7 linked regions of the Homo sapiens genome follow. The protein of the gene in region 3 purifies or fractionates together with the protein of the main gene of each other region. This does not show direct contact. Each region holds a gene or a part of one and is shown on either strand. Other genes may lie near its edges.

What was found.
Region 1: the proteins of KCNA2 (region 3) and AMFR purify together in Homo sapiens (co-immunoprecipitation; 2 studies listed by BioGRID and IntAct, with this or other methods). This does not show direct contact.
Region 2: the proteins of KCNA2 (region 3) and FBXO11 purify together in Homo sapiens (co-immunoprecipitation; 2 studies listed by BioGRID and IntAct, with this or other methods). This does not show direct contact.
Region 4: the proteins of KCNA2 (region 3) and SLC12A9 purify together in Homo sapiens (co-immunoprecipitation; 2 studies listed by BioGRID and IntAct, with this or other methods). This does not show direct contact.
Region 5: the proteins of KCNA2 (region 3) and LCLAT1 purify together in Homo sapiens (co-immunoprecipitation; 2 studies listed by BioGRID and IntAct, with this or other methods). This does not show direct contact.
Region 6: the proteins of KCNA2 (region 3) and FADS1 purify together in Homo sapiens (co-immunoprecipitation; 2 studies listed by BioGRID and IntAct, with this or other methods). This does not show direct contact.
Region 7: the proteins of KCNA2 (region 3) and KCNAB1 purify together in Homo sapiens (affinity purification with western blotting; 2 studies listed by BioGRID and IntAct, with this or other methods). This does not show direct contact.

Annotation. Positions count from the first base shown.
Region 1 is NC_000016.10:56,401,546-56,405,045, forward strand, and holds part of AMFR (E3 ubiquitin-protein ligase AMFR), read right to left. Parts: intron 3,497-3,500; coding exon 3,364-3,496; intron 1,574-3,363; coding exon 1,440-1,573; intron 299-1,439; coding exon 188-298; intron 1-187. UniProt on the Homo sapiens protein: E3 ubiquitin-protein ligase that mediates the polyubiquitination of lysine and cysteine residues on target proteins, such as CD3D, CYP3A4, CFTR, INSIG1, SOAT2/ACAT2 and APOB for proteasomal degradation.
Region 2 is NC_000002.12:47,899,999-47,903,498, forward strand, and holds part of FBXO11 (F-box only protein 11), read right to left. Parts: intron 1-3,500. UniProt on the Homo sapiens protein: Substrate recognition component of a SCF (SKP1-CUL1-F-box protein) E3 ubiquitin-protein ligase complex which mediates the ubiquitination and subsequent proteasomal degradation of target proteins, such as DTL/CDT2, BCL6, SNAI1 and PRDM1/BLIMP1.
Region 3 is NC_000001.11:110,597,783-110,601,282, reverse strand, and holds part of KCNA2 (potassium voltage-gated channel subfamily A member 2), read left to right. Parts: 3' UTR 1-3,500. UniProt on the Homo sapiens protein: Voltage-gated potassium channel that mediates transmembrane potassium transport in excitable membranes, primarily in the brain and the central nervous system, but also in the cardiovascular system.
Region 4 is NC_000007.14:100,855,713-100,859,212, reverse strand, and holds part of SLC12A9 (solute carrier family 12 member 9), read right to left. Parts: coding exon 3,376-3,500; intron 2,346-3,375; coding exon 2,037-2,345; intron 379-2,036; coding exon 271-378; intron 164-270; coding exon 52-163; intron 1-51. UniProt on the Homo sapiens protein: May be an inhibitor of SLC12A1. Seems to correspond to a subunit of a multimeric transport system and thus, additional subunits may be required for its function. May play a role in lysosomal ion flux and osmoregulation.
Region 5 is NC_000002.12:30,639,246-30,641,985, forward strand, and holds part of LCLAT1 (lysocardiolipin acyltransferase 1), read left to right. Parts: intron 1-871; coding exon 872-1,374; 3' UTR 1,375-2,740. UniProt on the Homo sapiens protein: Exhibits acyl-CoA:lysocardiolipin acyltransferase (ALCAT) activity; catalyzes the reacylation of lyso-cardiolipin to cardiolipin (CL), a key step in CL remodeling.
Region 6 is NC_000011.10:61,807,004-61,810,503, forward strand, and holds part of FADS1 (acyl-CoA (8-3)-desaturase), read right to left. Parts: intron 1-3,500.
Region 7 is NC_000003.12:156,512,078-156,515,577, reverse strand, and holds part of KCNAB1 (voltage-gated potassium channel subunit beta-1), read right to left. Parts: intron 1,215-3,500; coding exon 1,129-1,214; intron 479-1,128; coding exon 358-478; intron 1-357. UniProt on the Homo sapiens protein: Regulatory subunit of the voltage-gated potassium (Kv) Shaker channels composed of pore-forming and potassium-conducting alpha subunits and of regulatory beta subunits.

The sequences.
Region 1 (3,500 bases), on a different chromosome or scaffold from region 3:
GGGAAGAGGCTAAGGAACAAAGAAGGATACCCAAGAGCTTCCCAGAACACTCAGTGCCAGCAGCAAGGCCAGGCTGAGGTAATGTCCCCACTCCTCCACTAGGATGAGTCTCGAGCCTGGGTACACAAAGCACACACACGCCCTGGACAGAACACCTGTCCCACATGGCCCTTCACAAAGCTCCTACTTGTGGAAAAGATGTCCACAGGGCAGTTTCCGCGCAGCCTGCATGGAGTCCCAACAGATGGCACAGTCGTCATTGTTGACAGCCAGCTCCTCTGGAGTTGCAACTGCAAACCTGTGGAAACAAAACAAGCCCAGCAGGAACCTCAGTCAGTTCCACACGCACACTAAACACCACTTGATAGACTGCGCCTGTATCACAACACAGTTACAGAGAAAGCATGTTCAGCAAAACATTCTTGATAATCAAAAATATAATTTACCTTCAAAGCCCTTTCAAAAGTGAGTAACTTATGCACAGGAACTTTGTCTAAATAATGGTTGCTAGGCCGAGCGCGGTGGCTTATACCTGTAATCCCAGCACTTTCGGAGGCCGAGGTAGGGGGATCATGAGGTCAGGAGTTCAAGACCAGCCTAACCAACATGGTGAAACCCCGTCTCTACTAAAAATGCAAAAATTAGCCGGGCGTGGTGACAGGCGCCTGCAATCCCAGCTACTCAGGAGGCTGAGGCAGGAGACTTACTTCAACCTGGGAGGCGGAGGTTGCAGTGAGCTGAGATTGTGCCACTGCACTCCAGCCTGGGTGAGTGAGACTCCATCTCCAAAATAATAATAATAATAATAATAATGGCTGCTGTTAGTGAAGACCTCGGAGACCATATCCGGACAAATCAGAGGAGTAAGGCCCCCAGAGATCCAATCTGTGTCCCTGGCCACAAAGAAGAGATCCAAGCTGTCCCCCTGGGTGCAAAGAGGATACCCATTAATCTTGCACCTCCAGGCGTGGCTTAGCCCCAGCTTGGCAAAAAAGTGCCTCCTTCAATGAGGTTAAGTATGTGTGTGTAAACATGCATGTGCAAAGAACTGAGACCCACTTTCAGGAAATGAACAGGGTAGAAGCCCAATGAAGTGTCTATTTGATAATAATGACAATAAAATCATGACAAATAAGAGCCTAATACTGAGCACTATCTGCCCAGTACCATTCTAAGTACATGAATTATCTCACCAAATTCTCCCAATAGTTCAGGCAGAAGGTTCTGTTTTCATCCCTAATTTAGAGGTGAAGTAAATTGCCCCAAATCACACAGCACCTAAGTGGGGATTCACACCCGGGCAGTCTGACTCCAGAGCCTTTCCTCTCCACCACTCTATTAGCAGTTTACAAACATACATTCTGACATACTCTGGGATCTGCTGTTATTAAAAAACTAAAATGAGTAAACTTAGGCAACATCAACTTGTGCTTCCTTACCTGGCCTCCATGTTTCCAACCACACGTAGATAGTTCTTGTGCCGACGAATTCGACGTTGCACCTCATGAAACAGGTAACGCAGCTGCATAAAGATGACCAGGCTGGCCATGGATAACCAGATGTTGCCAAATAACTTAGAGAGAAAGAGAATAAAACACACGGTAAAAGCGAACGTGAACTTGCTAGTGATGAAGGCGCAGTATGCAGCGGAAGCTCTTCACTGTTGGTGATGGTGAACTGCAATGTCTTTCAGAAAGGAAATACACAGATTTATCTCATTACTCTAAACAATGCACATCCTCGTCAGCCTAGGTGCTCCAATGCCAGTCATCTTTCCTGAGAAACTCATCAGAAATGGAAAAGCTTTATGCAAAAAGATGTCTATCCATGCAATTATAAAACAGAAAATATGAAAATGAACAAAATGCCCAGAAGAACAGTTAGGTTGTAAACTCATGTAATGTAAAATTATATAGTCATTAATTTCACTTATTATACTATATAACTACATATTACTATTATATTTGTATATATAACAGTTCTGAAGGTCAATTATGGGAAGATAGTACTAGATAAATGAAAAAAGCAAGATATAACTATCTTTATCAAACTAATACATGATAAAAAATATGTAAAATGTGAAATAGCAAACAACCAAATATAATCTAAATAACCCATTGTGGGATGCGGTTTATTAAATCATGGTACAGCTATCTGATGATATTTTTATCCTGAAAGTATTAAAATGGCTTAGAAGAACTGATGTTAGCACAGGAAAATGTTCATAATACATTAGTTTTTAAAGAACAGAACTATATGTCTAAAATATGATCTCAATTTATGAATGTATGTACTCAAATACATAAAAAGAATCAGTTAAATACAAAATACATAAAAATACAAAATACATAAATACAAAAAATACATAAAAAGAAGCAGTTAAATACAAAAAATACAAGCATGAGGAAAAAAAATTTAAAAAAAGAAGATAAAAAATCTTAACAGTTATCTTTGGCCATTTGTTTGTCCCCTTTTTGAGGGGGGAGGGAGGCTTTTTTTTTTTTTTTGGGACGGAGTGTCACCCTGTCGCCCAGGATAGAGTACAGTGGCGCGATCTCAGCTCACTGCAACCTCCATTTCCCAGGTTCAAGCAATTCTCTGCCTCAGCCTCCCCAGTAGCTGGGATTACAGGCATGAGCCACCGCGTCCAGCCGAGGCTCTTTTTTAAAAAAAAGAATTACATACTTTCTTTAAAAAGTATGTTTTCAAAGTTTCTTTCAAAAAGTAGACTTAGAAATGTGCCACGTCTAGCCCAATAATTTTAAAATGCTACTTGCTAGGCTTATAATTTAAATAAATTGCCCACCAACTATTTTAATTCTCACCATTATTAGATCACTGAAGGGCCAACCAATGAAGCAGATCTACGACACCGTAACGTCTAACATACCAAAGTAAAATGTAAACAATGATGGTAGTAGGAATGTAGGAATTAAGTGTAAAGACTTTTTTTAATTACAAAGATGGAAAATGTATAAATCTGTGAAGTAGCTAACACTGCAGGAATTCCCATTACCACCTACAAAGTACCTGCTAAATATTTAAAGCCATAGAAACTATGGGGAAAGGCAGCTCCTTAATTTCATGCTAAAAGAATAATCTATTGACTTGGTCAGCAGAGTTAACTAAGTCTCCCAGGACAGCAAACACCTCCTGAGTTAGGCACCAGCCAAAGCAGTTCCATGGCACTGCCTTACACCCAGTGGCAAAAAGAGGGAGGGTTTGCAGCCACATTCATTTTTAGTCTTTAAGTAGTCCATCCACATCTTATTTCTAAAGTTTCATTTTTTAATGAAGAAACCATTACTGTTCCTGATTCTGAAAGGCTTGCCCTCTGTTAGAGCTCCTTCTGAGGAAACTTACCAACATGTGAATATGGTGCATGAGGTCCAGGGACAGGAGAGTGAGCTCCATGACAAAGTCTGTGTAATAGACATACGTCCCCTTTCCTTCCCACGTCCCTTCGTGGTTGAGGTCCCAGAGGTGAATTACGTATCTGT
Region 2 (3,500 bases), on a different chromosome or scaffold from region 3:
GATCAGGAACTACTTGTGGTTCCTGCCTTACCTAGTAGGTCTCCAAGCTGGTTGGCCTTCTCTTGGGTTTGTCAGAATTTCCAGTAAAGGGAGAAAAGCAGGATAAGAGCTCTTAGGCCTTATCAGCAGAGCTCTTAGGCCTCATCAGCACAACTTTAACACTAATAGCAACACTACTCTGTTTCTATCCCTCAAGTAAGTTCCAAGCTTTAAGAAAATAGGCTCTTTTTACAGCTCCCATACTTCCTGCCTCCAAAAGGTTGAGTGGCACTGTCTCCTCTCATGGGATACATTTGGAAGGGTTAGCCACCAGATGACAGAGTAGTACCCCACAGTACTTACTTCCTAAAACAGGAAAAATCATGTTTCTTGTGCAGAACTCCTCTATTAAGACTGCACAGGATCCATGAAGTTAAAATATCACATGCTAGAACAATGCCACAGAAAGTATAACTAGCATTCCTGACTAGAACAGCAAGGAGTGTCTCCTGGCTGCTGCATATTATAAATATACAGCTCATTCCTCATCAGTACAGTGTCGAGAAAAAAGTATATACACGTATATATACACACGTATACACACATATATACGTATATACACACGTATACACACGTATATACACACGTATACACACACGTACGTATATACACACGTATACACACACGTACGTATATACACACGTATACACACACGTATACACACACGTGTATATATATACACGTATACACACACGTGTATATATATACACGTATACACACACGTGTATATATATACACGTATACACACACGTGTATATATATACACGTATACACACACGTGTATATATATACACGTATACACACACGTGTATATATATACACGTATACACACACACGTGTATATATATACACGTATATATACACACATATATATGTATATATATACACGTATTTATGGAATTGCAGGGTTTTTAAAAATTGAAATCATTCAGTACGTATAATATTACATAAAATATTGCCGGTGGGGAGATATATATATTTATGTATATATATACACACGTGTGTACATATATACACATATATATGTATATATATACACACGTGTGTACATATATATACATATATATGTATATATGTACACACGTGTGTACATGTATATATATACACACGTGTGTACATATATACATATATATGTATATATATGTGGGTACATATATATGTGTGTCATAGATAAGATTTTTATCCCACAAATATGGGATTAGAGAGACTAGGTTTTTATTCTACAAGATTAGCTCAGAGTAGAAATGAATAGCAAAATCTATTAATGCATTCATTAAATTTCTTGAACTATAAATATCACAATTAGATTTTCAGCACTTCAAAACAGTCCTGTGACTTTTCCAATAACTAGAAAAAAAATACATCTATTTTCAAAAACTCCCATGTCAAGATTATTTCCAGAACCCAAATTCATCTTTTATTAAAAGGTAATAAATGAGAAACTAATAACAGTTATTAGATTCCAGGTAGAAGAATTTAGTAGCTGGAGGCTGATGTACGAAGGGGACTTCTGAATTTTAAACTGTGGCAATATTACCTATTCAAAGTAATTAATTTTATTTTATTTATTATTTATTTTTTGAGATGGAGTCTCATTCTGTCACCCAGGCTGGAGTGCAGTGGTGCAATCTCAGTTCAAAGTAATTAATTTTAACAACTAAAATCTACTGATGAGAACACACAGCACTTCTGTAGACTTGTAAGCTTTCCTCATACTTTGTAATATCTAAAAAAATTACAAAATACATTCCTGCAGTAAAGACAATAAATTCATCAGAACGGGCTGCAAAAGCTAACTCCTTCTAGAATTTTAAAACAAAACAAATATCAAAAATCCAATCCCACACTACTGTTTCATTAAATCATGGACTATATTACCGAATTGTCACTGCGTAAAATACAGTTTTTATTTTTGAGACCGAGTCTTGCACTGTGTCACCTGGGCTGGAGTGCAATGGTGTGATCTCAGCTCACTACAACCTCAGCCTCCCGCGTTCAAGCGATTCTCCTGCCTCAGCCTCCAGAGTAGCTGGGATTACAGGCGTGAGCCGCCATGCCTGGCTCATTTTTGTATTTCTAGTTAAGACGAGGTTTCACTACGTTGGCCAGGCTGGTCTTGAACTCCTGACCTCGTGGTCCACCTGCCTCGACCTCCCAAAGTGCTGGGATTACAGGCGTGAGCCATTGCTCTGGGCCTGTAAAATACAATTCTACTAGTACATGAAATCCCAATCTCAGGAATTTAAGAAATTAAAAAAGCTAATGATTAGGCTAGTATTTAGTCTTAGGATAGCTGATCATTTCAGCTAACGAGTGAACACAATAGTCCATGAAATACCCAGACCAATATTTCCTTACGTGGGGTGTAAGAAATGCTCCCCCATGGAAAGCTTTGAAAAATCCTCAAAGATTTTAATCTATAGGGTCTAGTTTCTTTCTTCTTCAAACACTGGCCATTACAGATAAGACAAAGCGTATATACACACACACATAATGTATGTACAAACATGTATATACACAAATATACCCACATACACACACACATACACATACACACGTGTGTATGTAAATATATTTAAAAGTGGTGTCAAGGAAGTTTTTATACCAATTAACCTGTGGGCAATGAAGCAGCTAAAGACCATTCTGACAGACTTTTTGCCTGAAAACATATTATACTGTAACTATTTTATTACCACTAAAGAACCTGAAATGCATCTTTATATAAAACAAATGATTTTATATACAGTCTGAACTAGTTTGTCTCAAAACAGCGAGTCTCACTTTGATTCCCTATCTGGAAAGTTGTCTGATCCACTATTAAGTAACTCTATCCAAGATCCTAATGCAAATGTTACATATCCATTAAGAGTTAGTAAAAGGTTAAAAAAAAAAAAACAAAAACCACACATACATTCTTAGCTTTAGTTCTTTAATTATCCTGTAATAATTAAACCCAGCATATTCCTAAACTAGCAACAACAAAATCCCTTTCTTTCCAAACTAGAAAGTGACACTTTGCGTGCTCCATAAAACTTTCGAAATAGAGTATTCTTAGTTAACTTCTGATCATTATATGAATCGGACATTTAAAAAAACGTAATTAAAATGTCAATTTTTCAAAGAATAACATATTTTTCCATATGGCTGGCAACATCTTTATTATTTTAGTTAACGAATTCATCTTAATGTTTTATTCATTTTAAGGCCATTTATGTGCCCTCTTTAAGACTCACACTATTTTCCCTAAAGTTCTTTTCCTCTCTGCTCTGTGCCAACACAGAATCTCCAAAACAGTTTGTACTAGCTGCAGAGAAGCAACAATTCTACAGTAAATTTCATTTACCATTTGGTTGGGTACATACTGAAATTTGGATTCATGAATATTGACAGTTTATAGACATCAATGAGAAGAAAATTGACACTGGCATGTGACTGCCAACAACCAAGTCACCTTACCTCAC
Region 3 (3,500 bases):
TCTATGTGGAAATGTCTGAAGTCCGGGACTAAGTGATGGAGTCCCTAGATGATCCAAAGGCATCATTTTGATCTCCAGACCCAAACTCTCTCCCCATTAAACTGGCAACCAGAGCTGCTTTTTAAAAAGAACCAAAGGATGGGTAAAGAATCATTTCCCACCCCCCAGAAGAAGTAGAGTGCAAATGAGCACTGCACAGCCTAAAGGTAGACAGTAGGTTGACCCTGAAATGGCTTCAGGTAGGGGGCTTTTAACTCACCAGACTGGGCGTCTTTGCCTTTTGACGGAGTAGCTTAATTTTCCCAAACAGTGAATTGCAGGGGTCGGGCTATGCAGGGGTGGCTCCAGCCCAGGCCTCACTGCTGCCTAGTTAGCACCTACAGTTGTCTTGGGGCATGGGGCACCAGCTCAGGGTGCTAGGCCCAGGGTGCTCATTAGTGCCTGGTCACCCACATCCCCAGGTATCTGCAGGGCATCCCATGCCCAGCACAAAGCCTCTGTGCTTCTCTTCCTCTCCTTCATGGGAGGTGGTGCTGAATTTCCAAGGCATGGGGTGGGAGGGACACAGATCTTTGGAAAATAGAAGGTAAAGCAACCCATATCTGAGGCCTAGGTCAGGGATAGATATCTTATCACAGTGTCCTTGGCCCAGGACTCTAAAATGTTCACATACAGTCATGCACATTCACCACAAAATAGGTACACTGTTGTCACACACAAACATAAAACATGTAACGTGCAAAATACAGACAGACCAGGTTAACATAAAAGCAAACACAGAAGATATATGGTTATAATTGTATATAAAATGCACACTCTGCACAGATATAGAATTTACACAGAACATACACAAAAGACAAACATACACCACATACAAATATACAACCTGAAACTCAGATGCAAAATACATAAAAAACTACATGGACAAAATGCATATGCATATAAGATACACAAAGGCTACTTTACCATTGTTTCTACACATAAAATACACACAAACTCAGTATATACACACGATGCATTAACTTATAATAGGCATACAAGATACATAGCACACATGCCCAAAAATATCGCACAATACACATGAAATGCAGACATATACTCAGACCCATTGCCCTGCCCCCAGAGCTATGAATTAACAGGCACAAACAAAAGATCAGATGTAATCACCTTTGCCTGGCCTGTGTCTATATCCCCCAGGATCTTTCAAGGAATCTCTTTCTCTATTCTTTTCTCTCACTACCAGATTTCACTCCTGAGAAGTAACTCCTAGGTTTCAAGCAGGAGGATGGGCCACCACATCAAGCAGATATCTGACTAAGACCAGGAATTGCATGGGGTCTCTACCAATTCACCTTCCTCCCACCAGAAACCTGGGTGCAGGGTGTGAAAGTACCTGGGACAGCTGGTAGCCTAATATAGGCCTCCTTGCCATGACCCTTCCTTCCTTCCAGCAAATCCGCACAGACAACCCAATAGCCCAGGCTCCCCTTCTCCCAGCACCTGGGATCTCCAGATTCAGCCCTATTCTCTTAAAAGCAGTAATGGCTCAAGAAACTGCAGGATCTTGAGCCCAGGACCAGGGTAAAGATGTCCCCAACATTCTCTAAGCCCACAGATTTTATTGCCCTTCCATCCTTTGCAGCTTTGTTGGGGGCACGGTCAGGAAGTTGAGACCCTATAGAGACCTGTCTCTTAAAATGAGCCACCTTTACTTGCTTGTGGCATTTCACTTGCTCTTGTGCATAAGCCCAAAGGGGCCAACTCCTGATTCCCCTCTGGGTGTGTTCAATCCCGGGCACGCTCTTCCTTTTCCTCTTGTTGGGCTCCCCTGGATGCCCTGCCTCCCATCCAATTGCTATGCAACCCAGTTCAGCTTAAGTAAAAAGTGATTAAGAACATACATCTAAGGCTAAGCAAGCTAACACTTTTTAGAGGGCCTGACTTTATCCTATATTCTAAGGCCATATTTAAATACTTTCTAAGATTACCCACCATTTTGGATTACTCTTGGAGCTGGTTCTTCCCCTAAGTAGGACTAGCTGAGAGCTGAGTGCATTTTAGCAAAGGCTTCACCTACATCGGAAGTAAAGAGTTGCAGTCAGGCTTTGGATCAGGCCTCACTCCTGATTTCTGCTCCTGCAGCCATCCCGTTGTGTCTCACTCTCCCTTCCAGTGATGGTCGCAGCTCCCAGTCTCTACAGAAAAGGTAACAACAGTAGGGAGTGGACATATGGGTCCAAAACGTGTGCTTTGCTGGAAACTTGTGTTTCCAGGTCAAGGTACCATTCCTGTTGGCTTCATCAAGTGCCTCTGTGGATTCATTTTCAAGAAACTTGGAGTTTTCAGGAGACCGAAAAGGAATAGGCCCAGGAAAGGTGGAGAGATTGTCAGGAAGAGAGAGTGGCTGAGTGGGTCAAATTTCAGAGTAAACTTTTTAGGAGCCAACATTTAATTAAGAAAATAATTAAGGCTCTGTGCTTTCTGAAACTTCAGTAATATTTGACATGCTCTCTTCCTTCTTCTCTGCTTGCCTCTGTCCCTCTCACCTGTGTTTCTGAGGCTAGTGTTGGCATGTCACCATGAGGTTAGCCTTTTAAAAGGGGCCCCACGGGAGTGTGCCTCTAGATTGCGTTAGCCTAGTATGGAAAGGGCTCCCATGGAAGCTATGATGGCCTGAGACCCCAGCCTGGGTGTTCATGTTGCTGCTCCGTGTTGGGAGGGCCCAGGACTAGCTTGTTCTACCTATTCTTCCTGGATCTCTCACTATATTATAGTGAGGACTCTATCAGTATCAACCCATGTGGAGAGAGGACAGCACCCTCTGAAGCTCCTCAGGCTGGGGATTCAGCACTGCCCACAGTAGTAGAGTCACAGAGGCTGACTCCCCCCTAAGGAAACTATAGAACAGTGTGCAAATTGCATATGAAGGTGGCACCACTACCCCTATGTCAGGCAGGGGAGCACAGTGCTTTGACTTGTTTACTCAAGAGAGGGGATGATGGTGCTGAGCTCTGCTCCCCAGAGCTTTCCTGGGGCCCATTGTCATAATAACTTGTATGTGGGTGATGGCCGCCTCATCTGCGAGGGCTATAATATCCATGGTGCTCCTTGGTTGCACAATGGAGGTTCCCCTAGCCTTGGCAAGGTATCCATTGCCGGGTTTGAACTCATGACCTTAACCTCATTAACATCATCAGTCACCTGAGCCAACGCGCAGAGAGGGGGATGCTGGGAGCTCTCTCAGTAGCTATTGTGACCATCATCTATATCTTCAGACTTAGCCCTTGTTGAGTCCAACCCTGTTCCCCTATCAAAGCAACCAGCAGGGACAGATGGAGGTAGGGGCTCCCCTACATGCAGGAAGGTTCTCTTCCTCAAACTAACCTAGTTTACTTTTCCTTTTTTTCTGCTTCCCTTCCCACCAAATCTCAGCTTCATCTCTCATAGTTTGTGTTTGAATATTTTTAAAGAGGAAAAGTGCAATAAAATAAATAGTGACT
Region 4 (3,500 bases), on a different chromosome or scaffold from region 3:
CCAGGTGCACCAATCTTGTTCGACACTCCACCCCCATCCCTCCCCAGACACCTGTCACAAGTGAAGCTGGAGAGAAAGAAAAGCAGGACATAGACGAAGAAGGTGTAGGCGACGGCGACGATCGTGCCCAGAGGGATCGCCCGGCTGGGGTCCTTCAGCTCCCCTGGAGAGGGGGAGCAGAGGGAGTGAGGTCAGCCCTCCAGCCATCCCCCTGGGTCCCTCACGGTGGCAGCCCCAAACCCCCAGGAGGCAGCAGGCAGGGACTCTCACCTGACATGTTGGCCCCAGCCATGATGCCTGTACAGCCGTTAAAGAGGACAGCAAAGACGCTGGCAAAATTCATCACGGCTCCCGTGGTGTAGTCCTCAGCATAGCCAGCTAGGAGGATCCTCCCAGGGAGGAGAGTGCATCAGCATCCGTCTCAGGGATCCAGGCCTCTTAGCCACCCTCTCCACACATTCCCACGGTCCTCTTGCCTCCCCTGCACTGCCCTCACTAAGACCCCAGCCTGTTCCTGCACTGGCCCTGGGTCAGCCAGACACATTGCCACGTCCCCCCAGTGCTCCGATATTCCTCCCTCCAGACCCTAATCCACGCTCTTTTATTTATTTATTTATTTTTTAGAGACAGGGTCTGGCTCTGTCATCCAGGCTGGAGTGCAGTGGCACCATCGTAGCTCACTGCAACCTCTACCTCCTGGGCTAGAGCGATCCTCCTGCCTCAGTCTGCCAAGTAGCTGGGACTACAGGTGTGCACCACCATGCCCATCTAACTTTTTAATTTTATTTATTTATTTATTTTGAGATGGAGTCTCGCTGTGTCACCCAGGCGAGAGTGCAGTGGTGCGATCTCGGCTCACTGCAACTTCTGCCTCCCAGGTTCAAGCAATTCCCCTGTCTCAGCCTCTCAGGTAGCTGGGATTACAGGTGCCCGCCACCACGCCTGGCTAATTTTTGTATTTTTAGTAGAGATGGGGTTTCACCATGTTGGCCAGGCTGATCTCGAACTCCTGGACTCAGGTGATCCACCCGCCTCGACCTCCGAAAGTCCTGGGATTACAGGCGGGAGCCACCGCACCCAGCCTATTTATTTTTTTGAGACGGAGTCTCGTTCTGAAGCCCAGGCTGGAGGGCAGTGGTGGCGATCTTAGCTCACTGCAGCCTCTGCCTCCCGGGTTCAAGAGATTCTCATGCCTCAGCCTCCTGAGTAGCTGGGACTACAGGTGCGCACCACCACCCCTGGCTAATTTTTGTATTTTTATTTTATGGTGTTTTTTTTGTTTGTTTGTTTTTTGGAGAGGGAACCTCACTGTCTCCCAGGCTGGAGTGCAATGGTGCAATCTCGGCTCACTGAATGGCACAATCTCGGCTCCTCCTCCCGGGTTCAATCAGTTCTCCCTCAGCTTCCCGAGTGTCTGGCACTACAGGTGCAAGCCAGCGTGCCCAGCTAATTTTCGTGTTTTTAGTAGAGACGGGGAGAGGGTTTCACCATGTTGGCCAGACTGGTCTCAAACTCCTGACCTCAGGTGATCCTCCTGCCTCGGCCTCCCAGAATGCTGGGATTACAGGCGTGAGCCACCGCACCTGGTCTCAAGCTCTTTCCTGAGATGCCTTCCCTCTCTGCTCCCAGCTCCTGGCTGAATCCCCCACCTGTCTATCTCAGGCCACCTCCAGCTCCCCGGCTCCTGCCCTCCCCAGCCCATAGTCAGGCCTCCCTTCTCTCCACTCCTGGGTGATCCTGATCTGTTTAAGTCATGCTGGGCCATTCTGTGCTATTTAACTGATTCCTGAATGCATGTCTCTCCTCAGCTAGAACACAAGTTCCTCTAAAGCAGGGACTGTTTTGTGGGCTTCCTCCTGCCCTGCCGGCCAAGCACACGCTAGACAGGCTTGAATTAAATTGCACTGCTCTGCAGTCCAGACCTCCTGCCCTCCATTCCCTCTGACACCTGTGCTCATCCAGAGGTTTTACGGGCCCGGCCCGACGTCTGCCCACCCCTCACCCCGAGATCCCTGCCACGGCAGCACCCAGCTCACCGCCCAAGTTGTCCTTCAGGGTACTGCTGTTGAAGCCGGTGAAGTGGCCAAACCGGGGCGGCAGGGAGGAGCCATTGGGGCCAGGCCTAGGAGTCAAGCGGATGTCCCTCGGCCCCACAGCCACAAAACTGATGAGCACAGAGGCCAGGGAGCCAGAGACCAGCAGGAATGTGAGGAATGAGGCCCGGGCATAGAGGCCGGCTCCCAGGGTGCAGACCCCACCCACAAGGCCCAGCAGCAGGGAGCCATACAGCAGGTTCCAGCCGTAGCCCTGGGGCAGGACCCGGAGCCCACTGGGCCCTGTGGCATCTGGAGAGAGGTAGGGACAGAGTTAGAAGGCCCGATCCTAAGGCACCCCACCAGCCGGGCATGGTGGGCGGCTCACATCTATAATTCCAGCACTTTGGGAGGCCGAGGTGGGAGGATTGCTTGAGTCCAGGAGTTTAAAACTAACCTGGGCAACATTGTGAAACCCCAGCTCCACAAAAACTGCAAAATTAGCCAGGTGTGGGGAGGCATGCCTGTAGTCCAGCTACTGGGAGGCTGAGGTGGGAGAATCGCATGAGCCCGGGAGGCAGAAGTTGCATTGAGCCGAGATGGTACCACTGCACTCCAGCCTTGGTGACAGAGTGAGACCTTCTCTCAAGAAAAAAAAAAAAAAGAAGAAGGGGCAGGGCGCCGGGGCTCACGCCTGTAATCCCAACACTTTGGGAAGCTGAGGCAGGTGGATCACTTGAGGTCAGGAGTTCAAGACCAGCCTGGCCAACATGGTGAAACCCCGTCTCTACTAAAAATACAAACATTAGCCAGGCGTGGTGGTGAGTGCCTGTAATCCCAGCTACTCAAGAGGCTAAGGCAGGAGAATTGCTTGAACCCGGGAGGCAAAGGTTGCAGTGAGCGGAGATCACACCACTGTACTCCAGCCTGGGCAACAAAGCAAGACTCCATCTCAAAATAAATAAATAAATAAGAAGGGACCCAGCCCCAACTGTGACCCAAAGCAAGACAAGCCCTCCTCTGCCCACCTGCTATCAGAGAGTCCACCTTCCCCACTTCCCTCTTAGCTCCATCCTAGCATCTTAGCTCTCCCTGGTGGTCTCTGTCAGTTTTAAGAATCTTAGCCTGGTCTCTCCGATTAGATGGTTAGCTCCCTGCAGGCAAGGACAATCTCAGGGATGTCCATATCTCCTGCACGATGCTGGCCACACAGCAGAAGCTCCAGAAAGCCAAGGTAATGGCTCAGTCTGCCCCTCTGCTGGAGAGGACCTTCTCCCTCATGATCCCACACTCCCAGACCCTGTAAACCCGCAGCACTGCCCAGATCGGACAGAGCACAGACCGGCCCCGAAGACATCAAGCACAGACTCCACCAGCCCCAGGAGGGAGACGGCACAGCCACAGACGTTAGCCAGGTAGAACATGAGCCCAATGCTGCCCCCGACCTCGGGCCCCAGTGTGCGGCTG
Region 5 (2,740 bases), on a different chromosome or scaffold from region 3:
ACCTTACGTGTTCCCATAAGGTCTATTTAGGCCTTTATGCATGCCTGCCTCCCCAGTTACGTTGAGAACATCTTGAGTGAGGTTTAGGACCATGTCTTACTTGACTGTCTATCTCCAGCATCTAGCACTCTGGCCTGTTTAAGTGAAAACACTTTACCCCCTAAGTTAAATTCAGGATGACAGGATACAGGATCAGGGTCTTACTTGGAGTTCAAGTTTATTTATCTATTTATTTTTAAAGATGGAGTCTCACTGTATTGTCCAGGCTGAACTCCTGGGCAATAGCGATTCTCTCACCTCATCCTCCCGAGTACCTGGGCTTACAGGTGTGTGCCCCTGTAGCTCAAGTTGATGTTTTTTAAAATAAAAAAGTATATGGTAGTTTTCACATGTTTCTCACCACCTAAGTCTGATTTTAAGTTAAGTTTTTCTTTTCAGTAGCTATCGTGGTAACATTGGGTTAAAGGTGAGAAAGTCTACTTTTATTTGGAGAGATGGCTATATTAATAGGAGGTATCAAAACTGAATTCTATTGGTGTTTAAGGAGCTAGCCCTGTAATGTTTAATTCCCATCTCAAATTTGAGTTAATGTGCTTAGTAGTTTTAGAATGGCAGATTACTGTTTCTGCAAATGAAGATATTTTCTTTCTAAATATTTTGTGGTAATTAGCAAGCAGGAAATAAAACTAAAGATGACTGGTAAATATTGACCCAGGTGTCCAGGAACACCAGTATCTCTAACCCTTGTTTGTTCATTGTGGTTCACACTGTCCTGATTTTTCGGTTTCTGGTGCTGCCCTGCAGTGTGAATCAGCATTATCACCCAAATTGAGCACTGCTTAATCTATGTTTTCATCTTTTCGAAACCCAGGTAAGAACCTTGATGCTGTCCATGATATCACTGTGGCGTATCCTCACAACATTCCTCAATCAGAGAAGCACCTCCTCCAAGGAGACTTTCCCAGGGAAATCCACTTTCACGTCCACCGGTATCCAATAGACACCCTCCCCACATCCAAGGAGGACCTTCAACTCTGGTGCCACAAACGGTGGGAAGAGAAAGAAGAGAGGCTGCGTTCCTTCTATCAAGGGGAGAAGAATTTTTATTTTACCGGACAGAGTGTCATTCCACCTTGCAAGTCTGAACTCAGGGTCCTTGTGGTCAAATTGCTCTCTATACTGTATTGGACCCTGTTCAGCCCTGCAATGTGCCTACTCATATATTTGTACAGTCTTGTTAAGTGGTATTTTATAATCACCATTGTAATCTTTGTGCTGCAAGAGAGAATATTTGGTGGACTGGAGATCATAGAACTTGCATGTTACCGACTTTTACACAAACAGCCACATTTAAATTCAAAGAAAAATGAGTAAGATTATAAGGTTTGCCATGTGAAAACCTAGAGCATATTTTGGAAATGTTCTAAACCTTTCTAAGCTCAGATGCATTTTTGCATGACTATGTCGAATATTTCTTACTGCCATCATTATTTGTTAAAGATATTTTGCACTTAATTTTGTGGGAAAAATATTGCTACAATTTTTTTTAATCTCTGAATGTAATTTCGATACTGTGTACATAGCAGGGAGTGATCGGGGTGAAATAACTTGGGCCAGAATATTATTAAACAATCATCAGGCTTTTAGCGACAAGGAACACACACATTTTTCTTAAAGGCCCAATCCTAACAGACTCCCCGTACCAGAGGCAGATCTGGAACTCGTCAACAACAGCCCGGATCACATGCTGTTACTGGACTGCCCAGGTCACCTCATTGAGGTGAGCGCTGTCCCTCCAGGTACTCAGGCAGGTGGTGCCCAGGCTCCCTCCCTTGGCGTCCTTCTTCCTGCGCCAAACCCATCTCATCCTTAAGATCAGAAAATGGAACCCCCTTTGTCGTGAAACCGATCAAGCATTTTGACAGGAAGCCCTTCATTATTCATAACATTGTATGCTGACCAAGACGTCAGAAGACCACCTGTGCCCTTTTCTCTCGTGGAAGATAAAACCTGGACTCAGGGAGCAACCACAGGCTCTCCACTTTGAAACTTTAGTTTGAATTTTAAAAGATAGGAAGTAATACAGTTTAAGTTCCTTTCTCACACTCAGTATTGCATGCTTAGTGCTGGTTTTCTTACAACATTTTGGCAGGTGTAGCTTTTTCTGTTAAAAATGGTATACATGAAGTCACATACTTTTTTAAAGGAACACTCAGAACATTCTGTCATTCCAGTCAGAAACTGTCTTTTGAAATATTTCTTTACAACCTACCAAAAAAGGAAGGTTGTTTTTTCTACATGTGCTTGGGTATCTAACATCTACCATTAAAACAACAAATGGCTTGCAGACAGGGCAGTAATGGTTTATCCTAAATTACTCAACCCCTTGTAGCCTTGACAAATTTTACCTTAAAACCAAAATGAAACACAAAAATTAATCCTTAATAATGATAGCAAGTGATCTTTCTTTTTAGTTTTAGCCTTCCTTTTTCAATAGTAATATTTAAACCCACTTTTGACCAATTGTTTGCCCAAATATTCTTGTCATTTGGAGTCAGTGGAAAATCCAGCACACCAAGCACCAGTCTTCTTCTGAGGCAAAAGAAAAGTGTTGTCATTTTCACTCTGTTGGAGCTGCACACTTTTTTTTCTTTTTTTTTTTCTTTTTTTTTTTGTCGTGTAAGAAGGATGCTGGTCAGAGCTGCAGAAAATATGAGGCAATTAAAAGTCTTTAGCTGTT
Region 6 (3,500 bases), on a different chromosome or scaffold from region 3:
GTGTTCATTCTCTTTGTCATGAGGTTTCCAGGCCCCACTGCCCTCTCCCCTTTCTCCCATCGTACTTTTTTGTTTATTTTTTAGACGGAGTCTCGCTCTTGTTGCCCAGGCTGGAGTGCAATGGCACGATCTTGGCTTACCACAACTTCTGCCTCCCTGGGTTCAAGCGATTCTCCTGCCTCAGCCTCCCAAGTAGCTAGGATTACAGGCATGTGCCTCCACGCCCAGCTAATTTTGTATTTTTAGTAGAGATGGGGTTTCTCCATGTTGTTCAGGCTGGTCTTGAACTCCCAACCTCAGGTGATCCACCCACCTCAGCCTCCCAGAGTGCTGGGATTACAGGTGTGAGGCAGTGCGCCCGGCCGCCATCGTACTTTTTCACACCAGAATCTCCATGGACAACCATATCTGCCCCTATACAGGTTAAGTATTCCCTCTATATCCAGCCCCTAATTCTCCCCATCAAAATCTTTTGGTCTCTTGACTTAAACATGAGCTTTATCAAATCTCCTGAAGGCTAATTCGAGTTTGGCAAATATTTCTGGAAAAGACACCAAGAACAATTTGGCAATCTGAAGGTTCCAGCAGTTTTCCCCAGTAGGTGGTGGTTATTTTTTATAAGCCGAGCTGCTGAAGAGACAGGCTGGGGCCACCATGTCAACCAGCCAGTCTAGAACCCCTGATGTGGGCTCACAAACAAGACAGCAAAGTTCTGCTGTCTCACTCCATGACTATGTCTGCATCGCACTCCAATTAGTTCAGGTAACCAGACAACCACAAGGGCACAAGAGGAGCACTCAACCCCTGAGCAGAGCTCTAGCTCACCCTTCCATGTGTCCACAGTTCATTTATTGAGAGTTTATTCTGTACAAGACACTTCAGCTAGATGAAACATCCTTTCTACATTAACAGATTCAAGTTCTTCAGCACCTACTGTGTGCCGGGCTATGTTCTAGATGCTTAGGATACAGAGGTGAACAATACAGACTTCCCACCCTCATGGAGCTTATAACCTTAGGGGATGAAGCTGGTGATAAATTTGTAAACAGAGACCGGGTGCAGTGGCTCATGCCTGTAATCCCAGCACTTTGGGAGGCTGAGGTAGGCGGACTGCATGAGCCCAGGAGTTTGAGACCAACCTGGGCAACATGGTGAAACCACGTCCCTACTAAAAGCACAAAAATTAGCCAGGCTTGGTGGTACGCACCTGTAGTCCCAGCTACTCAGGAGGCTGAGGCAGGAGAATCTCTTGAACTCGGGAGGCGGAGGTTGTAGTGAGCTGAGACCGCACCATTGCACTTCAGCCTGGGTGACAGAGCGAGACTCTGTCTCAAAAAAAAAAAAAAAGATCTGGGACCCAAAATAGCCTTTCTTCTCCCCGGCCAGCTATGAGGCTGAGGATGGGCTGCCTGTTAGTGAATGCCTGGGCAATAGGCTGCTTGGTTCCATCCCTCTGGGGATGTTGATGCCTGTGCTGACCCCATGACATCCACGTCAGTGCCTCCCAAAATTTTTGGAGGACAAGGAGGGGCAGGGGACACTGCCCTAAATAGAACCCTTCTGACCACCAAGGGTCTAAACATAATGGGACAAGTTATAGGGATCATAAAGGCATTTGCCATTCAAGGAGGAAGCAATGGATGGGGCTCCTTTCCATAACAGTTCCACAATAGGAAGCCCCCAAGCAAGGGCGCCCCTTTTTCAATTTTTTCCTCAGTTAATGTTGCTCGAGATGGGGTGATTCTCACCACCACATCCAGGTCCTCAGCAAGCGTTGCTTACACTGCCTCCAAAACATATCCCAAATCCATTGGCTTCACCTGCTCCTCCGTGGTCTGGTCTGGACTCGCTCCAGCCGCCTCACTGAGGTTATATCTGTGATTATACCTACCCTCTATAATTCATCCTCTCCACCTCCAGCCAGAGCAAGCCTTTTAAAGTGCAAAGCAGATTGCTGTACCCACCAGAAACCCTCCTGTGACTCCCCATTGCTATTGGAATAAAACCCAAACTTCTTACCACACCCTTACCATGGCTTTCTAAGGCCCTACATGATCTGGCCCCTCCCTAGTTTTCTGGTCTTCTCATTCTCTCATTGCTTACTGTCCCTGAACATCCGGGAGCCTCTGTACTTGACTGTTCTCTCTGTTCCAAATGTTCCTTCCCTGAATTTTTGCAGTGTTGGCCCTTTTCATCATTCAGGTCTCAGTTCAGATGTCGGCACCCGAAGGAGGCCATATCTGATCATGACTACCTCTCAGTTTCTGTCATATTTTACTGTTTTTAATCTGTAAGTTACGTTGAACTCTGTTTACAATTTTTTTTTGGTTTTAATCTTTTTAAAAAATTATTATTTTTACACACAGGGTTGCGCTGTTACCCAGGCTGGAGTGCAGTGGCGTGATCATACTCACTGCAGCCTTCACCTCCTGGGCTCAAGCGATGCTCCCACCTCAGCCTCCCAAGTAGCTGGGACCACAGGCACATGCCAACTGCGTCCCTTCATTCTCTGTTTTTGATGTCTGCTGATAGGAATTTCCTGAAAACCCAAGTACCAAGAAGCAATAAAGGTAGTGGTGTGAGACTGTTCCCTTCCACTTAACCTGCCCATGTCTTTTTTTTAAACCCTCTGTAGTGACAGTAGAAATGCACAAGCCCCATGCCACTGCCCAGCAAATAACCACACTGCCCTTGAAGCAGCCATGGGAGTCAGACGGGGGACAGGGCTGCTTCGTCATCTGCATAGTACTGACCATAATGGTATCGGACATGTAACAAACCCAAGTCCATGCTCATGATGGGAAAATAAGAACATTATGGACAGGTGGGGCATGAGCCTCAAGCTATGAGCTCCTCATGCCAGGCCAACCAGTGCTGCCAAAGCCCTTTCAAAGTTCTCATGGCCAGGGGCGAGAGGAACGCCAGGCTACCTTGAACTCATGCCTAGAACTGAAATGTGTTTTAACGACAATTTAATTCCTCGCAAGCTGAAATGTCACAAAGTGGAGGAGGTGGACCTGGAAGAACTCTGCAGCCTACAGCCTTGGGACAAAGGGCTTTAAATGAACTTTTCAAAGAATTCTGCTGGCCTTTTAGAACCTTCCATTGCCTAATGCTCACTAAAAGCTCACCAGATCTCCACCCCCAGGCATTATTCCTTCAGCAGCTACATTATTTCTGCTTACAACTTCAGACGACATCTCAAACCCAACGCTGACCACCCAGGAAATCAGGCTGGGGATCAGCAGGGTGGGAAGAAGTACTCAGTGAATGAATGTTCCAGATATTGGACATGAAAGAAGAGTAAGACAGTCCAGCCCTGGACAGAGAAGACTGTGACAAGAAGGATACCTAAGTGTGGGAGAGAAATACAAAGTGCAAGGGGAATACTTGCCTGGGGCAAGAGTGTCAAAAAAGCACCTCCAGGAGGTGCCATCAGCACCTTCAAGGATAGGCTATCTCATCATTTGGATCCTTCTGGTCATCCGCTGGATCCTTTG
Region 7 (3,500 bases), on a different chromosome or scaffold from region 3:
TTTTTGAAAGGTAGTCATTGTTTACTCGAGCAAGCACCAATGAAAAATGAACTTATTCATTGGTTGTTCCTTTTATTCAGTATGCATTTTTTTTTTGAACACCTGCTGAGTACAGCTGAAATACCAGTCACAATTTACAACTCTGCTTGGCTTTCATCAGTGATACCCTGTAGACTAAATGCAGATTCTGCTACATTTTGATTCTGCTACAATCTCTGGAATGCATGGTTCTTACAATGTCTATGTTAATTAGGGACATTTAGGAAAGCATTTCAATAACACTGTTTTTATTTTTTCCCCGAATCAGTGATCTTTCTCTTGTTAAAAATACTCAGTAGCTTTTATTTTGAAGATTACCTATTTTGTGGTAGAGCTCTGGCAGCTGGACCTCCACTTTCTCTCTCTGGAAAAGATGGTACTCAGCTTGTTCACAGACCGGTGGGATCATATTGAACTGTCTTGCTACAGAATAGGCTTCCTAGGGAGGAATGAGATTACAACCAAATTTATACTGATGAGAAATAAGGCTTCGCTGTAATTTGTATGCATGAGAAATGTTTACTTTGGTGAAATCAGTACAAACCAAGAAACATGTAGGATGCCAAATAATAAGCAAATTTGTCACCACCGATTTCACTAAGAGCAATATGAAAGGTAGGAAACCCTTATTAATTCTTTGGGAGGGTTTGGATTGAGTTAAGTCCAGAGCAAATTAGTCAAGGTGTGAATTGTACACTACGATAAAGAAAATGTAGTTTAACTATTTTTAAGTTCCTAAAGAAATAAGACTTAGACTAACATATAAAAGTATCTGTAATTAGCTTGGTATAAACAGTATAGTTAATACAGTTTTTTATAAGAAAACTAGAATACTCTGTTAATATATCTCATTAGCTGTGAAATTCACTTTACCCTCTTGCCACCAAAGAACACTGTATTCTCTGTTGTATTCTGAACGGATGAGCTCCGGCTCCAATATCCATCTCTGTAATGATGGAATTGATTCTAGAATTCCAGTGCCATAGTGATTGTGAGAAAAGTTTGCAAAAGATCTTGCAATTTATGCATGGCATCTGAAAAGCAATAATAAGGTACTCAATAGCCATTTAAAAATAGAAGTTAAATTACCATGATCTCCATAGCACTCCATCTCGAGGTGCCCCAGTACATCGCCATGCCTTGGTTTATCACATGTGTCATGGCTCGGACAATTTCTGTGGAAGGTCAAACAGACAGCATTTCATGAATTTGTCTACTTTTCAAAGTTATGCGATTTTTACTCCTCTAGCCAAAGCTTAGAAGCTTAATGCAATTGTTTGTTTGATTAATAAAATTAGCCTAATATTGGTGACAACATTATAGTCTGACAGGAAATATTGATGGTTTGAAGGCTGATGGTACCTTTGGGCAAACTGACATTCCATTTTCCATTTGCAGCAACAACACTAAATGATATTGAAAATATAATGACCATTTTAAGTTCTTCCTTTACTTTTATTGCTTGATGATTCCTGGCCTAATAAAGAATACATGATTTACCTTTTTAAGAGCCTGAGTACCTTCCCGACTAAAGTGAGAAGTAAGAGAAGGCATTTGTTTCAACTTTGTAGAATGTAAGGTCATTGAAGGTGAAAGGCTTGTCTTTGTATATTGGACTTGCAGAGCTGGACCTCACACAGAATGGGTCTCTAAGAGAGGTGACTCAACAACAATGTGTTTAGCAGAAAGATAAACATATTAAATGCTGAACAAACAGCCGAAGTCACCGTGGCTCACAGCTTGCAATGACACACCCTGTCCTTGATCACTTTGAACCAAATTTTGTCCTAAGACACCCACATAATTGATTTCACTGGGGCCTGTTTGTGGTCCCACCCAGCGTGCTCATCAGCCTCATGGAGCTCGACATCACATTTCCTAAACAGGAAAATGAATCCCTTCCCCAGAGGATGGAGCTGAGCAAATCCTCTTGGCACCAGCCAGATGTGCTGCAGAACAAGAGAGCATGGAGACCCTCAAGTTTAACTTAGTTAAAATTCACAGACAGGGTTGGATTTCTTCTACAAAGCAGGTCAGTGTTTAACAGGATGCCAGGTCACTCGACAGTTTCAAAGGGTCACAGGCCTTGGGATTTTTTATTTCTCAGTAATACCAGTCAGTTAAATGCCCTTCAGAAGAACCAAATCCTTGTCTCAAAGTAGAGTTGCAGTAGATGTATTTTTTTATTATTATTATTATTTCTCATGAGCAGGCACTGTCTAGATTGATACGGAACAGGATTTGGAATGAAATGGCCAGAGTCAGGGTCTTAGCTTCTTTGCTTGTTTGGCTGGTGTAAACTTTTTTGTTGTTGTTGTTTTTTTTTTGAGATGGAGTCTTGCCCTTTGGCCCAGGCTGGAGTGCAGTGGCAAGATCTCGGCTCCCTGCAGGCTCCGCCTCCCGGGTTCATGCCATTCTCCTGCCTCAGCCTCCCGAGTAGCTGGGACTACAGGTGCCCGCCACCACACCCGGCTAACTTTTTGTATTTTTGGTAGAGACAGGGTTTCACCGTGTTAGCCAGGATGGTCTCGATCTCCTGACCTCGTGATCCTCCCACCTCGGCCTCCCAAAGTACTGGGATTACAGGCGTGAGCCACTGCTCCCGTCCTTCTGTAAACTATTTTTAATTGCCCTTGATTTCTTTTTTGGAAGATGGAAATGCTTTCATTCACCATTGTGTGTCCAACAGAGGTAAAAGCTGGCTTATAAGCAAAATAGTTTTCTTTTTCTTGGAGAAAGACTCTAGAATATCAAATTATTGCCTAGCAACTAAAACTATGAAGTTCATTCTCCATTTATAAAACATATGATTAAAAAAGTGTAAGGAACCGCTTTTCTTCTCTTTCATTATACAAATGGAGATGCGTGCCTATGATAAACAGTTCCAGAAGTTGAAAACAATGATATGAATCTCTGCCCCAGATAGATTCTGTCTTTAGATGTCTCCATCACTGCACCAGCTCCCTTTCCCTTCACATCCTGTGTCATTCAGAGCTGGGAGTTCAGCCAATCAACAGTATCTACTAGGTGTCTGCTGTTCTGGGTGCTGGAGATACTGTGGTGAATCAAACATGCTGATAAACACAGAAGAGGTTAACAGAGAATAAACTGGACCTGGCCTCTCCCTTAACTCTGTCTCTGCCATCAAGTAAGACAGGCACAGAATGCTGACAGGTGGCTTGGGCACGTGGGAGTCCTTGACAAAAGCAGTGAAGATGGAGTGGAAGTTGTGACTCTTCCTGCACATGCATTTAATTATACAACACACAAGTATTAAAAGCTTAATGTTTGCCAGTCACTGTGCTGGTTGCTGGATTCTTCTGTGAGTAAAACAGACACAAATTTCCTGGACTCAGGGAGTTTCAAGTTGAGTGAGAGATGGAGGGGTAAACAAGTAAGTCATTATAAAATGTAAAGTGTTATAAAGAAAATAACACAGGGGACTGGGACAGGAAATGAAA